Regions from separate parts of the Homo sapiens genome. Here all the other regions are linked to region 1. Evidence: fine-mapped expression QTL. A gene starts in region 1. Each other region holds a variant in brackets. All regions are shown on one strand. Distances are between the middles of the regions. Region 1 holds the start of TMBIM1 (transmembrane BAX inhibitor motif containing 1). Region 2 holds the start of LOC105373880 (a long non-coding RNA gene). Region 3 overlaps ARPC2 (actin related protein 2/3 complex subunit 2).

The links. PIP is the estimated chance that this variant, and not a neighbour inherited with it, causes the effect.
Region 2: its variant is the best candidate, but not a certain one, in a credible set for the expression of TMBIM1 in whole blood (TOPMed, PIP 0.89).
Region 3: its variant is the best candidate, but not a certain one, in a credible set for the expression of TMBIM1 in visceral fat (GTEx, PIP 0.54).

Annotation. Positions count from the first base shown.
Region 1 is chr2:218,290,204-218,294,325 of GRCh38, reverse strand. It overlaps TMBIM1 (transmembrane BAX inhibitor motif containing 1), which reads left to right and starts at 1,823. Exons shown (of 12, transcript NM_022152.6): 1 at 1,823-1,860. The region is part of intron 2 of PNKD (PNKD metallo-beta-lactamase domain containing); the gene reads right to left. RefSeq lists enhancers at 299-1,145, 1,328-2,290, 2,291-3,255 and a silencer at 1,566-2,045.
Region 2 is chr2:218,313,417-218,317,538 of GRCh38, reverse strand. All of the region lies in intron 2 of PNKD (PNKD metallo-beta-lactamase domain containing), which reads right to left. The region is part of intron 1 of LOC105373881 (a long non-coding RNA gene); the gene reads left to right. It overlaps LOC105373880 (a long non-coding RNA gene), which reads right to left and starts at 789. Exons shown (of 2, transcript XR_923909.3): 1 at 656-789. The variant C/T (reference allele first, on the strand shown) is at 2,336.
Region 3 is chr2:218,247,957-218,252,078 of GRCh38, reverse strand. It overlaps ARPC2 (actin related protein 2/3 complex subunit 2), which reads right to left. Exons shown (of 11, transcript NM_152862.3): 9 at 2,615-2,715; 10 at 2,158-2,258. Among named protein-coding and RNA genes, the nearest start is that of TRY-ATA1-1, 4.2 kb to the right of the region's middle. The variant G/A (reference allele first, on the strand shown) is at 1,694.

The DNA.
Region 1 (4,122 bases):
CACTCTAAGGTATTTTTGTTGTAGCAGCCCAGATGGACTAAGACAGCACAAGTGTAGAGAGCATGAAAAAATGTCAGGGATCTGGACAGATTCCATGGGCCATGCATTTCACCTAGGGCGCTACTCCTTGAGCAAGGGGGAGACAGACACTGAGCAGAACTGTACTTGCTCTGGTGAGATCACACCTTGGGTGGGGACTTCCTAAAATGAGGTTCTTGGCCTGTAGGAACTGGAAGTACACTGAAGGGTTGGGGTGTCTGGGGAGCTAGCCCACCATAACGGCCACTAGTCCCCCTAAGTAACTCCTACTTAAACTATATTTACAGAAATAAACATACATAGTGTGTGTATGGGGGGCAGTTTTTAAAAATCTGTCTTTTTTTTTTTTTTTTTTTTTTAAATCTCTGTTTTGGGGCTGGACGTGGTGGCTCATGTCTGTAATCCTAGCACTTTGGGAGGCCAAAGTGGGCTGACTGCTTTGAGCTCAGGGGTTTGAGACCAGCCTATGCAACAACGTGAAAACCCATCTCTACAAAACAAACAAACCAAACAAAACAAACAAGCAAACAAACAAAATTAGCTGGGTGTAGTGGCACACACTTGTAATCCCAGCTACTCAGGAGGCTGAGGCCGGAGAATCACTTGAAACCAGGAGGAGGATGCAGTGAGCCGAGATGGCGCCACTGCACTCCAGCCTGGGTGACAGAGCGAGACCCTGTCTGGAAAAAAAAAAAAAAAAAAAAAAGGACATTCAGTGGTGGTGTGGTGCTGACCTATAGCTATTAACATGAGATAAGCACTTTAAACAGAGTTGGTCAACTACTGGCAGCCTTGGTGTCATGGAAAGAACTTGGACTTTGGAACCACAGAAACTCAGGCAAGGCTCGGTAATGTTTCTCTTTTTAAATTGAGACAAGGTCTCTCTATGTTGCCTAGGCTGGGTCTCCAACTCCTGGGCTCAAGCCATCCTCTGGCCTTGGCCTCCCAAAAGTGCTAGGATCGCAGGTGTGAGTCACCATGCCCAGGCTCCAGTAATATTTCAGAACTTCCTCAAAACTGTTTCCTCCTTTGCTACTGCATTCTTCACTGAGATGAGGGTTAAGACCTACCTAACAGTAGTAATCTACATCTCAATGTAGGACTTCTGAATTCTGACTTGAGGAAAGCACCTGCTTTCCTGGTTGAGTAATTATAAACAGAGATTCTAGGTTTGCATGTTTGCAGTTTTAAACTCGAAAAGTGCATTTATCTCAAAAACACAGAATTATCAAGGATTTTAATTACTGATTTATTTGTAATGTAAAAATGGGAAACAAACGGCCTCCAGTAGGAAATTAATTTAATCCGCATAGCCATGCAATGGAATACTTCACGGCATTAAGATTGTGCTTTTGAAGACTATTTAGTGAGAAGAAAAATGTTCATCATAAAACAGTAAAAAGAAGGGCAGTAAACAAAACACCATACAATATACCCCACTGTAGAAAAACAAAATACATACAGAAATGTAATAGCCAAAGAAGGACCCAAAGCGAACGCTTCCCCCTGGGAACTAGGAGGGGTGGAGAGAAATTACTTTCTTCCCTGCATTTCTGTGTCTTTTCTAGCTTCCTATCAGTATCATGTATTGCCTTTAAATCCGAAAATACCCCTGTGTTATTAGTGAGGCGTCGTCGGGGCTCTGAGAGGCGCGCGCGCCCGGGACAGACCCCTGCGCCCCCTGGCGGCGCCCTGAGGCCCCGCCCCACGAGGCCGGCGCGACGGGGCGGGGCGCGGAGCCCCAGCCGAGCCTAGCCCTGCCCGGCCCCGGAGGACTTGCAACACTCCGAGGCCAGGAACGCTCCGTCTGGAACGGCGCAGGCAAGCCAGGGGGCCGGGGCCGGCGCCGTTGGGGACTGTGGGCGGTGGGGACTGGTCCAGGGCTGGGGCGGCCATGCGCCGGGGCGCCTAAACTTTTCGGAGCGCGCTCCCGGCTTGCCCGCTCCTGGGCCCAAGGAGCCCGTTCCAGATGGGGATCTCCCCTCCTGGCCCTTGGCGTTTCGCTCTCCCTGGGCGCGCGGGTGGGCGGCCGGGTCTGTGGCACCTGGTTAGCCTTGGGAGCCCAGCAGCGTGTTGTGGGCACTGGTGAGCGGAGCCAGGGTCTGGGGGTGTCCTCGTGTTCCCTCTTTCGGGCACGAGTGGCCTCTCTGTCGCAGGGCCTATCCACCATGCCAGCCCGAGTGGCCAGCTGTGTGGGATGAGGGCTTTCATGGCCCTCAGCTGGTGAGAAGAGGGAAGAGGGAGGGGAGACAGCCAGGGCCTGGCACGGACCCCAGGTTGCCCCCACACGCGCTGAGGCCAGTCTCGGTGTAGACAGGTGAATATTTAAGGGGTGGGGAAGGGGGGGTCCTAGCTTGCAGCTGGGGCAGAAGCCAATGAGCAGCTCAAGTGTTTGGCATGGGGAAGTGGCCACCTCTATCACCATGACTTTGCCCTCTGCCAGTCCCACTTCCAGCCACTGTTTCCCGGCTGGGTTCACAGAACTACAGGGGAGTAACATCCTCCTCGTGACTTCTTTGGGTTAGAGTGAAAACAAAACAGAGAAACGGGAAAAGGGAAAGCAAGTGGAGAGACTGGGGCAGGAGCCAGGGACCAGTGGGAGGAAGCAGAGGGAGGCTGCTGGGAGGCCAGGCCCTGGCCTTGTGGGGTCGGCACCAATTCTTGTCCTATGGGGTCTCCATCTCCTCTCCCTCCTCTGTGGCCTCTACGTGGTACCCAGGAGTTTGGGGTTCTACCTGAGCACCCTGGACATGGGATAAGTAGGCCTGGGAACGCAGGTCAGAGCCAGATGTCATGGAAGGGCCCTCAGGTGTCCAGTTCTCTGGGCTCTGAAATATTCATCTCATTAGTGAGCTTTGGTTTCCAAGCTGGCGACTTTGGGCTGGCCAGTGGTGGCAGGGGAGCCAGGTGCCTCCTGGGGCTGCTTTATTGGCGCAAAGGGGGAGCCATACTTCCTTCTCACCTGCCTCCTCTCTCTGTCTCTCCAGTCATGAGGATCCAGAGAACCAGTTTATAGCTTAAATGGAAGAGGCAGGACCACAGTGTCAGGGGCCCTGTCTTTCTGTGCTATGACCTCAAGGCCTCACTTGTAAAAATGAGCCCTTCAGAGAGGTAATGATGGGTTATCCTGTAAGTGTTGGGAGAGCCTCATGTCATGAGCTGGGGTAATAGCCACCTGGGCTCAGCCTCCTCCCCTGGGAATGGGTGCCTCAGCCAGACGCTGTCTACCTCAGAGCACCTCCAACCGCAGGCCTCACCCTGGGCCTTTCAGAAAAAGCAGAAGCCACAGAGAAGGGAAACACACATACTTGTGTGTTTTCAGAGGGCTGAACTGGGACGACCAGAGAGTGGAAGCTCATACAATTCTCTGGGAAGAAGTTCTGCTAACAACATGTCTGATCATGACATGGGCCTTCTGGACCTATTCTGTTGGGGACACAGTGGAAGGGATGACCTTGACAGAATCTTCCAACCCTAAGATTCTGGGATTCTAGGCCAAAACCTGGGTCTTGTTTTGAAGTAGAAATGATATCCAGAAGTCGACAGGCTACAGTGGCAGGTACCTCCATTGGTGGGAAGGGAGATATTAATGAGCTCCCACTTTTGTCTGTAATGATTTGTGCTTTGCCCCGTTGCACAGAGGTGAGGTTAGGGGTGCCCGTTTCCTGGTTCTGTGGTAGCTGGATATGTCCCCCGGCCCTTGGCAGTAAATCCCACGGTGGGATAGCAGCTGTGTGGAATGGGGGAAGGGGAGGACCCTCGCCAGAGATCCTGGCACTGGGCTGACCCCCTGAGAGTGAGAGGGCATGTCTAGTACTTCATGTGACTGCTCTGAGGGGCAGCTGGGTGTACGCACAGAGGTTATAAGAGACGAGGAGTTAGGATATGAATGATTCTCAGGGTTGGGTGTCTGTAATACAAAGGTGGCCTGGGTCAGCATCCCACAGGGTGTTAATAGGTTTGCCTCGATAAAAGTGGCTCAGGCTTAAGGGAGTTTGAAGGAACACTGGGTTAAACAAAGCTGAACAGGGTTGCTTACTGCAGGACTTCTCAGGGGCAGAATATGCCATTGTGAATTTCCAA
Region 2 (4,122 bases), 23 kb before region 1:
AGGCCAAGGCCATTGCTCTTCCTGACTCATGTACAAACTTCTTTCCACCCCTCCTCATCAGTCCCATACACTGATCAGCCCAGACTCTCTAAGGATTTCAACACCTGTTTTTAGTCTTCCTGCCTGATTCCTGCCATCAGGTAATTCCAACAAGCATGGCTCATTCAACATCATAGCACAGCAGTTTTCAAGTGTTAGGGAGCCTAGGAACCACTCAGGGAGCTTGTAAAAATACGGAATTCTGGTCCGTCCCCCAGAGATTCAAACTTAGTAGGTTTGGCTGGGGCCCAAGAGTGTGCATTTCGCATAGGTGGTTCTGAACTCTGCCTTGACCTCAGTTCCTGACTTCAATTCCAATGCCTTCGACATAATTCAGCAGCTTGCTCACATGGCCACACCCTAGATTCACCTGGAACTTCTCTGCCTCTGAGAACCTAAATTCCAATGTCCTTTTCCCTGATCCCCTCCCATCCCCAGTACACATGGACCTCCAGTTCCAGCTCCTCAGGCAGTTTGTTTTCTTCCAGCCCTTCAGCCCCTCTTGCACCTATATTTGAACTTAGGCTCAATCCCTTGAACTACTTACCACCTGTTAGCTTCCTGATCCCCTGACCCCCTTGACCTCCAGCCTTAACCTACCAACCTTCAGACCTACCTGAACCAACCTGACAGTCTCCTACCTCACGGGCAGGGCTGAAGAAAACTGCTGTGTCATATGACTCAGGGCTGCGATGGTTCAGGCCATCCCAAGTCCCTGATACCAGTGCTTGGCAGTTCCGTTTTGCTGAGGCCCCATCTCATCTGCAGTTGTTATTCCAAACCTCAAGCCCCAACGTCATTTCCTTTACTTTCAACAAATATCCTTCTTAGAGAAAACAATTTCTGTGACTACCTACCCCTCTACATATTTTGCAATTTTCCTCAGCCTAAGAGCAAATTCCAGCATCTCCCTGCCTTAAAAACTTCCTGGCCGGGCACAGTGGCTCACGCCTGTAATCCCAGCACTTTGGGAGGCCAAGGCAGGCGGATTGCCTGAGCTCAGGAGTTCGAAACCAGCCTGGGCAACAAGGTGAAACCCTGTCTCTACTAAAAATACAAAAAATTAGCTGGATATGGTGGCGGGTGCCTGTAATCCCAGCTACTTGGGAAGCTGAGGCAGGATAATCACTTGAACCTGGGAGGTGGAGGTTGCAGTGAGCTGAGATCGTGCCACTGCACTCCAGCCTGGGTGACAGAGTGAGACTCTGTCTCAAAAAAAAAAAAAAAAAAAGAAAGAAAGAAAAAAATCTTCCCTTGACCTTGTGCCATTTTCTAGACTCCATTCTGCCTTTATCTCAACACAATCTAGTTTCCTGAAAGGCTGTCTCCAAAGGTGTGGTAGATGGCATTTCAGTTTCCAGTTATTCATCTCTCACTGTAAACATACCGTTCACCCTGTGACTGTGCATCACTTCAATGGAGGCGAGGTATATTTTCCCACGCCACTGATGTTGCTGGTCTAAGGGAGATGAAAGGCACATGGAGCCACCTGGATCCCACTCACAGCTTGGAAGTCAACCCAGCCCAGCAGAGCCCAAGCTAGATCAGCTAAAGCTCAGCCTGCCCACAGATGCATGAGCAAGATACATGCTTATGATTGTAGGCTTCTGAGTTTTGAACTGGCTTCTTATGCAGCATTACTGCAATAATAGTTAACAGTGACAGAGGGAAACAGAATATTAATGATGCTGGAAAGACATGATGGATGAGTGACTAGCTATTTACAAAAGAGCAATTTAGACTCGTGCCTCACAGAATCCACCAAAATAAATTCTACCCGAATTAAAGGGTTAAGGATATAAAATTAAACCACAGAAAATTAGAAGAAAATGAAAGACATGTTCAATCTGGATAGCAGAGGATTTTCTAAAGCTAAAAATAACAAATGCGTCATTCTAATTTTCCTTAATAGGCGTATGTTATTCTTAAAGGCATTTATTATTCCTATTATTCCTTAAAGGCATACATTATTCAGAAAAAAGCAACAGAAGATCTAACAAGGGAAATAATTACTGTTTTAGTTACTTTAAAATTTAAATCCTTGGCCGGGCGCCATGGCTCATGCCTGGAATCCCAGCACTTTGGGAGGCCGAGGCGGGTGGAGGCCGAGGTGGGTGGATGACGAGGTCAAAGAGATTGAGACCATCCTGGCCAACATGGTGAAACCCCGTCTCTACTAAAAATACAAAAATTAGCTGGGCGTGGTGGCGCGTGCCTGTAGTCCCAGCTACTTGGGAGGCTGGGGCAGGAGAATAGCTTGAACCTGGGAGGCAGAGGTCACAGTGAGCTGAGATCA[C/T]GCCACTGCACTCCAGCCTGGTGACACAGCAAGACTGTCTCAAAAAAGAAAGAAAGAAGAAAGAAAGAAAGAAAGAAAGAAAGGAAGGAAGGAAGGAAGGAAGGAAGGAGAGAGAGAGAGAGAAAGAAAGGAAGGAAGGAAGGAAGAAAGAAAGAAAGAAAGAAAAAGAAAGAAAGAAAGAAAGAAAGAAAAAGAAAGAAAGAAAGAAAACCTCAGGCGGGCATAGTGGCTCATGCCTGGCATCCCAGCACTTCGGGAGACTGAAGCAGGTGGATCACTTGAGGCCAGGAGTTCAAGGCCAGCCTGTCCAAAGTGGTGAAACCAAGTCTCTGCTAAAAATACAAAAATTAGCAGGGCATGGTGGCAGGCGTCTGTAATCCTAGCTACTTGGGCACTGAGGCACAAGAAATCGCTTGAACCCAGGAGGTGGAGGTTCCAGTAAGCCGAGATCGCCCCATTGCACTCCAGCCTGGGCGACAGAGTGAGACTCTCTCAAAAAGAAAAAAAAAAACGAACTTAAATATACTTGATCTTAGCCAAAAGGCCAAGGAGTGATTACAGACCTTAAATAAATGTGAAAACACAATGACCTCAATTAATAAATTAATAAATGGCTAATAAATATGAAAAAATGTGAAAACTCAAAAGAATCAAGAAAATCCAAGTATAGCCAGGCATGGTGGCTAACTTGCACCCAAAGTACAAGTAATCCCAGCACTTTGGGAGGCCAAGGTGGGAGGATCGCTTGAGCCCAGGAGTTCCAGACCAGCCTGGGCAACAGAGGGAGACCTCATCTCTACAAAAAATTTAAAAAATCAGCCAGGCTTGGTGGTACACGCCTGTGCTTCCAGCTGCTCAGGAGGCTGAGGTAGGAGGATCTCTTGGGCCTGGGAGGTAAAGGCTGCAGTAAACTGTGATCATGTCACTGCACTCCAGCCTGGGAGACAGAGACTCTGTCTCAAAAAAAAAAAAAAAAAAAAAGCCAGGGCGCGGTGGCTCACGCCTGTAATCCCAGCAATTTGGGAGGCAGAGGCAGGCAGATCACCTGAGGCTGGGAGTTTGAGACCAGCCTGACCAACATGGAGAAACCCTGTCTCTACTAAAAATACAAAAAATTAGCCGGGTGTGGTGGCACATGCCTGTAATCCCAGCAACTCAGGAGGCTGAGGTAGAAGAATCGCTTGAACCTGGGAGGCGGAGGTTGTGGTGAGCTGAGATTGCGCCACTGCACTCCAGCCTCAAGAGCGAAACTCCAGCAACAAGAGTGAAACTCCGTCTCAAAAAAAAAAAAAAAAAAAAAGAAATAAAGAAAATGCAGTTAAACAACGAGATTTGATTTTCACTTAACCAAAATGCCAATATTAAAAACAAGAATAAAATCCTGAAGTTCTAAGAATATGGGAAGTTGAGTATTCATACATGGTTTGTAGGGACATCAAATTTGTATAATTTTCTGGAAAGCAATTACCAATATGCATCAAGGCCTTAAAAATGTTCATATCTGTTTACTTAGTAATTCTGTTTTAGGGATCAGCCCAAAAGATAAACTCTGAAATATATTAAAAATTTGAAGGCCCAGGGTTACTGGTAATGATGAAACTCTACAAACAACCTAGAGATCTTGCAACAAAAGTTAGGTTCTGTGGAACTCAGTGTTCCTTTTAAATGGTATTTAAATTAGAAATCAATGCAGTACGTGATCCTGAATTGGATCCTGGACTAGAAAAAAAGACACTGGGGAACAACTGTCAACATCAATAAAGACTATAGGTAGGTTATTAGAATTG
Region 3 (4,122 bases), 42 kb after region 1:
GCTAATTCTGTATTTTTAGTAGAGATGGGGTTTCTCCATGTTGGTCAGGCTGGAGGTCTCCAACTCCTGACCTCAGGTGATCCGCCTGCCTCGGCCTCCCAAAGTGCTGGGATTACAAGCGTGAGCCACCGCACCTGGCCTTAAACTGCTTTTTGACAATGTCTGAAAACCCTCACCTACTGCTCAAGTCCTTGATCTCTTTCTCATCCTTTCAAATGACAGCAGAAACTAACTTGGTAGAAGAGCCCTCAAATGCAAGAGAGAGAGTGTAAAGCCCTAGGCGTACCACACCCACTAAAACTTTGCCTCAAGAGTACTGAGTGCTGGGCCAGGTGTGGTGGCTCATGTCTGTTATCCCAACACTTTGGGAGGCTGAGGTGGGAGGATCACTTGAGTCCAGGAGTTCGAGACCAGCCTGGACAACATGGTGAAATCCCGTCTCTACAAAAATACAAAAATTAGCCAGCTGTGATGGTGCATGCCTGTGGTCCCAGCTACTTGGGGGGCTGAGATGGGAGGATTGCTTGAGCCCAGGAGGTTGAGCCTGGCTGGGGATCACAGAGTACTGGGCTGGGCGCGGTGGCTCACTCCTTAATCCCAACACTTTGGGAAGCTGAGGTAGGTGGATCACGAGGTCAGCAGTTCAAGACCAGCCTGGCCAATATGGTGAAACCCTGTCTCTATTAAAAATACAAATAAATTAGTGGGGCTTAGTGGCGCACGCCTGTAGTCCCAGCTACTTGGGAGGCTGAGGCAAGAGAATTGCTTGAACCCAGGAGGCAGAGGTCGTAGTGAACTAAGATTGTGCCTCTGCACTCCAGCCTGTGCTTCAAGAGCGAAACTCTGTATCAAAAAACAAAAAACAAAAACAAAACAACAAAACAAAACAACAACAGTACTGGGGTGCTGGCAAATAACACTGGCTGTGAGGGAGGCTTATGACCTCAAGACTTTTAGTTCAACTGGTACAAAAGACAGCAGATGGGAGGCCGAGGTGGGTGGACTGCCTGAGCTCACGAGTTCTAGACCAGCCTGGGCAACATGGTGAAACCCCATCTCTACTAAAATACAAAAAATTAGCCGGGCGTGGTGGTGTGCACCTGCAGTCCCAGCTAGTTGGGAGGCAGAGGCTGCAGTGAGCTGAGATCGCGCCACTGCACTCCAGCCTGGGCGACAGAGTGAGACTCTGTCTCCCCCAACACCCCCACCAAAAAACAAACAAACAAACAAAAACCAGCAAATGAACACTATTACCTTATCTTAAGGACAGGACTGCCTGAATTTCATCAGAAGAACCAAGGTCTGGCACCTTTCACAAAGATGGAACTCTCTAGGCTCTAGGCCATGCTCGCCTTTCCTGCATGCAGAGCCACACCCCTATTTAGGGCTCTCCTCAAATTTTTTTTTTTTTTTTTGAGACTAAGTCTTACTCTGTCGCTCAGGCTGGAGTGCAGTGGCACAATCTTGGCTCACTGCGACCTCTGCCTCCTGGGCTCAAGCAATTCTCTGCCTCAGCCTCCCGAGTAGCCGGGACTACAGGCACCTGCCACCACGACCGGCTAATTTTTTTTGTATTTTTAGTAAAGATGGGGTTTCACCGTCTTGGCCAGGCTGGTCCTGAACTCCTGACCCTGTGATCCACCCATCTCAGCCTCCCAAAGTGCTGGGATTACAGGCGTGAGCCACAGCGCCC[G/A]TCACGGCTCTCCTCAATTCTATCCCTGATAAAGAGAACCTTCCTCTGCATGCAAACTTCCTGCTGAGAGTGGACCAGGAAAAAGAACACTTAGTGGGGTGGTTTCAGGCCTATTTACCCAATTAAAGGTCCCTAAGCAACTTACTCCATCTCTCCAGAAAGACCACCAAAAGCACAAGACTGACCTCATAACTCAGGCCCAAAAAGAACAGTCTCTTGGTAAACTTTGTTTATTTCCTAGCTGCCATTCTCATAGCTCACAAAGATACGGAAACAAGGAAACCCATCCTGGCCTATATGGCAGTGAGAACATGGAATCCCACCTTTGGTTTATCTACTTAGCCCTGCTGACCTCATATGTAGCCAGTGCCCAGATACATGGAGGACCAGGCCACCAGCGCCCACTGCTTCCTTCTCGGTGACTCAGGAGAGGAAGGTGGTCGCTGGGGTGCTGCCTAACTTACGTGATTGTTTTCATTTCTTTTTTCTCGGCATCTGGGCGTGCGCGGTTCAGCACCTTGAGGAAGTCAGACGTTTTCGCCCGCATACGTGTGTGAATATAGGCCTGGGAACAAACATAACAGGTACTAAAGCACAGTCATGGTCTAGAAAGACAGCTTTGCTGTCTTTCATCAGAGAGGTCATCAAGGGCGGTTGGGAACATACACCCTGGGATTGACCCAGGCCCTGCAGGGAAGCAGGAAGGTGAGCAATTCTGGAAACAAATATTCATCTCTGCTATAGGGAGGGATGGGGGACAGTGGCTTGATGAAGAAAGACCATGGTTTCTTGAAGCCTCTAGAATTATTTACCTAAGAGTCAATATCCACAGCGTAGACTAATGGAATGACTTTCTGTCAGGAGTTCTGGTGGAGGAAAAGACCCAGAGCATAGAGGCTGAGATGCTGGCACCCCCCTCACCTTAGAGCACTTGATGTGGTAGTGCAGGTAGTCCCGGAACGTGTGGATCAGGTTGATGGTGTTGTCTCGAGCACTGGCATTGGTGTGACGAGGGAACAGCACTGAAGGCGGAAGACACAAACAAGGCGTCAGGACACGACACAAATGCCAAAGGGTGGGGAAGAACAACAGCCTAGTGAACATCACTCCCTCTCTGCTTAAGTACACTCCACTTGTGTCAGTATTACCAGGCTTTGTCAGGGTTTTTTCTTGACATGGAAGTTAAACAGCATGGCCAGGAAAGGTGTCAACGAGCGTGAATGGAGGAGCCCACGATGAAAAACAGGGCTTGACCCTAGGCCTTCATTCTACTCCTGAATTCTGCAGCTGTGCATTTTGAAATCTATTTCCGGTCTGCCACACAGGTACTAGCTCTTGCCTCTGCAGCTGGACACACTCCAGGATCACACTAACTGGCTGTAACAGTTTACTTTAAGGAATCAGGATTAGGAAATGCAGCTGCCTGTCTTAGGTCCTTGGTGCTGAAATAGAGTAAACCTTCCCAGAAAACAGATGCCAGAGAATTTCCCATATTCTCACTGTGAAAACAGACAATAAGGTGTAAGGACCTGAACCCTCATGATAGGCCAGGCAGGAGGAGCTGCTCTGAATGGGCCTGACTGAAGTCCACCCTGTGACACCAGCCACCTAAAGACCTGTGTGAGGCTGGGCGCGATGGCTCACGCCTGTAATCCCAGCACTTTGGGAGGCTGACGCAGGCTGATCATCTGAGATCAGGAGTTTTGAGACCAGCCTGGCCAACATGGTGAAACCCCATCTCTACTAAAAATATAAAAATTAGCCACATGTGATGGCGTGTGCCTGTAATCTCAGCTACTTAGGAGGCTGAGGCAGGAGAATCGCTTAAACCCGGGGGGTGGAGGTTGCAGTGAGCCAAGACGGTGCCACTGCACTCCAGCCTGAGTGACAGAGCAAGACTCCATCTCAAAAAAAGACCTGTGTGCTCATCACAAAGTCCTTTGCACTACAGCAGGCCTGCATGCCCCTCTTGCCCTGGTTTTCTGGAATCGTTTTTACCTGCTGCACCTCCTCTACTCACTATCTGCAAAACCCCGTCAGTTGTCTGAAGTTTTCGTTGAAATGAAAAGGAATGCCTCCTAAGGAAGTGTGGAATTTCTGTGTCAATGTGCCCTGGCCTGAAAGTAAATGAACACCACAACAGAAGACAACTATACTTCAAAGAATCTAAGGTGCTTATGACTGTAAGTCTGCCATAATTTTATGTACCACAAGAGAAACATGCTGCCAATTAAAGTGTGACATGCTATGAATTGTAAGATGCATCCCAGCTTCAAAGACAAAAACTTGAAAAAAATGGTATAGCTGGCTGGGCGCAGTGGCACACGCCTGTAATCCCAGCACTTTGGGAGGCTGAAGTGAGTGGATTGCTTGAGGCCAGGAGTTGAGATCAGCCTGGCCAACATGGAAACCCTGTTTCTTTTTTTTTT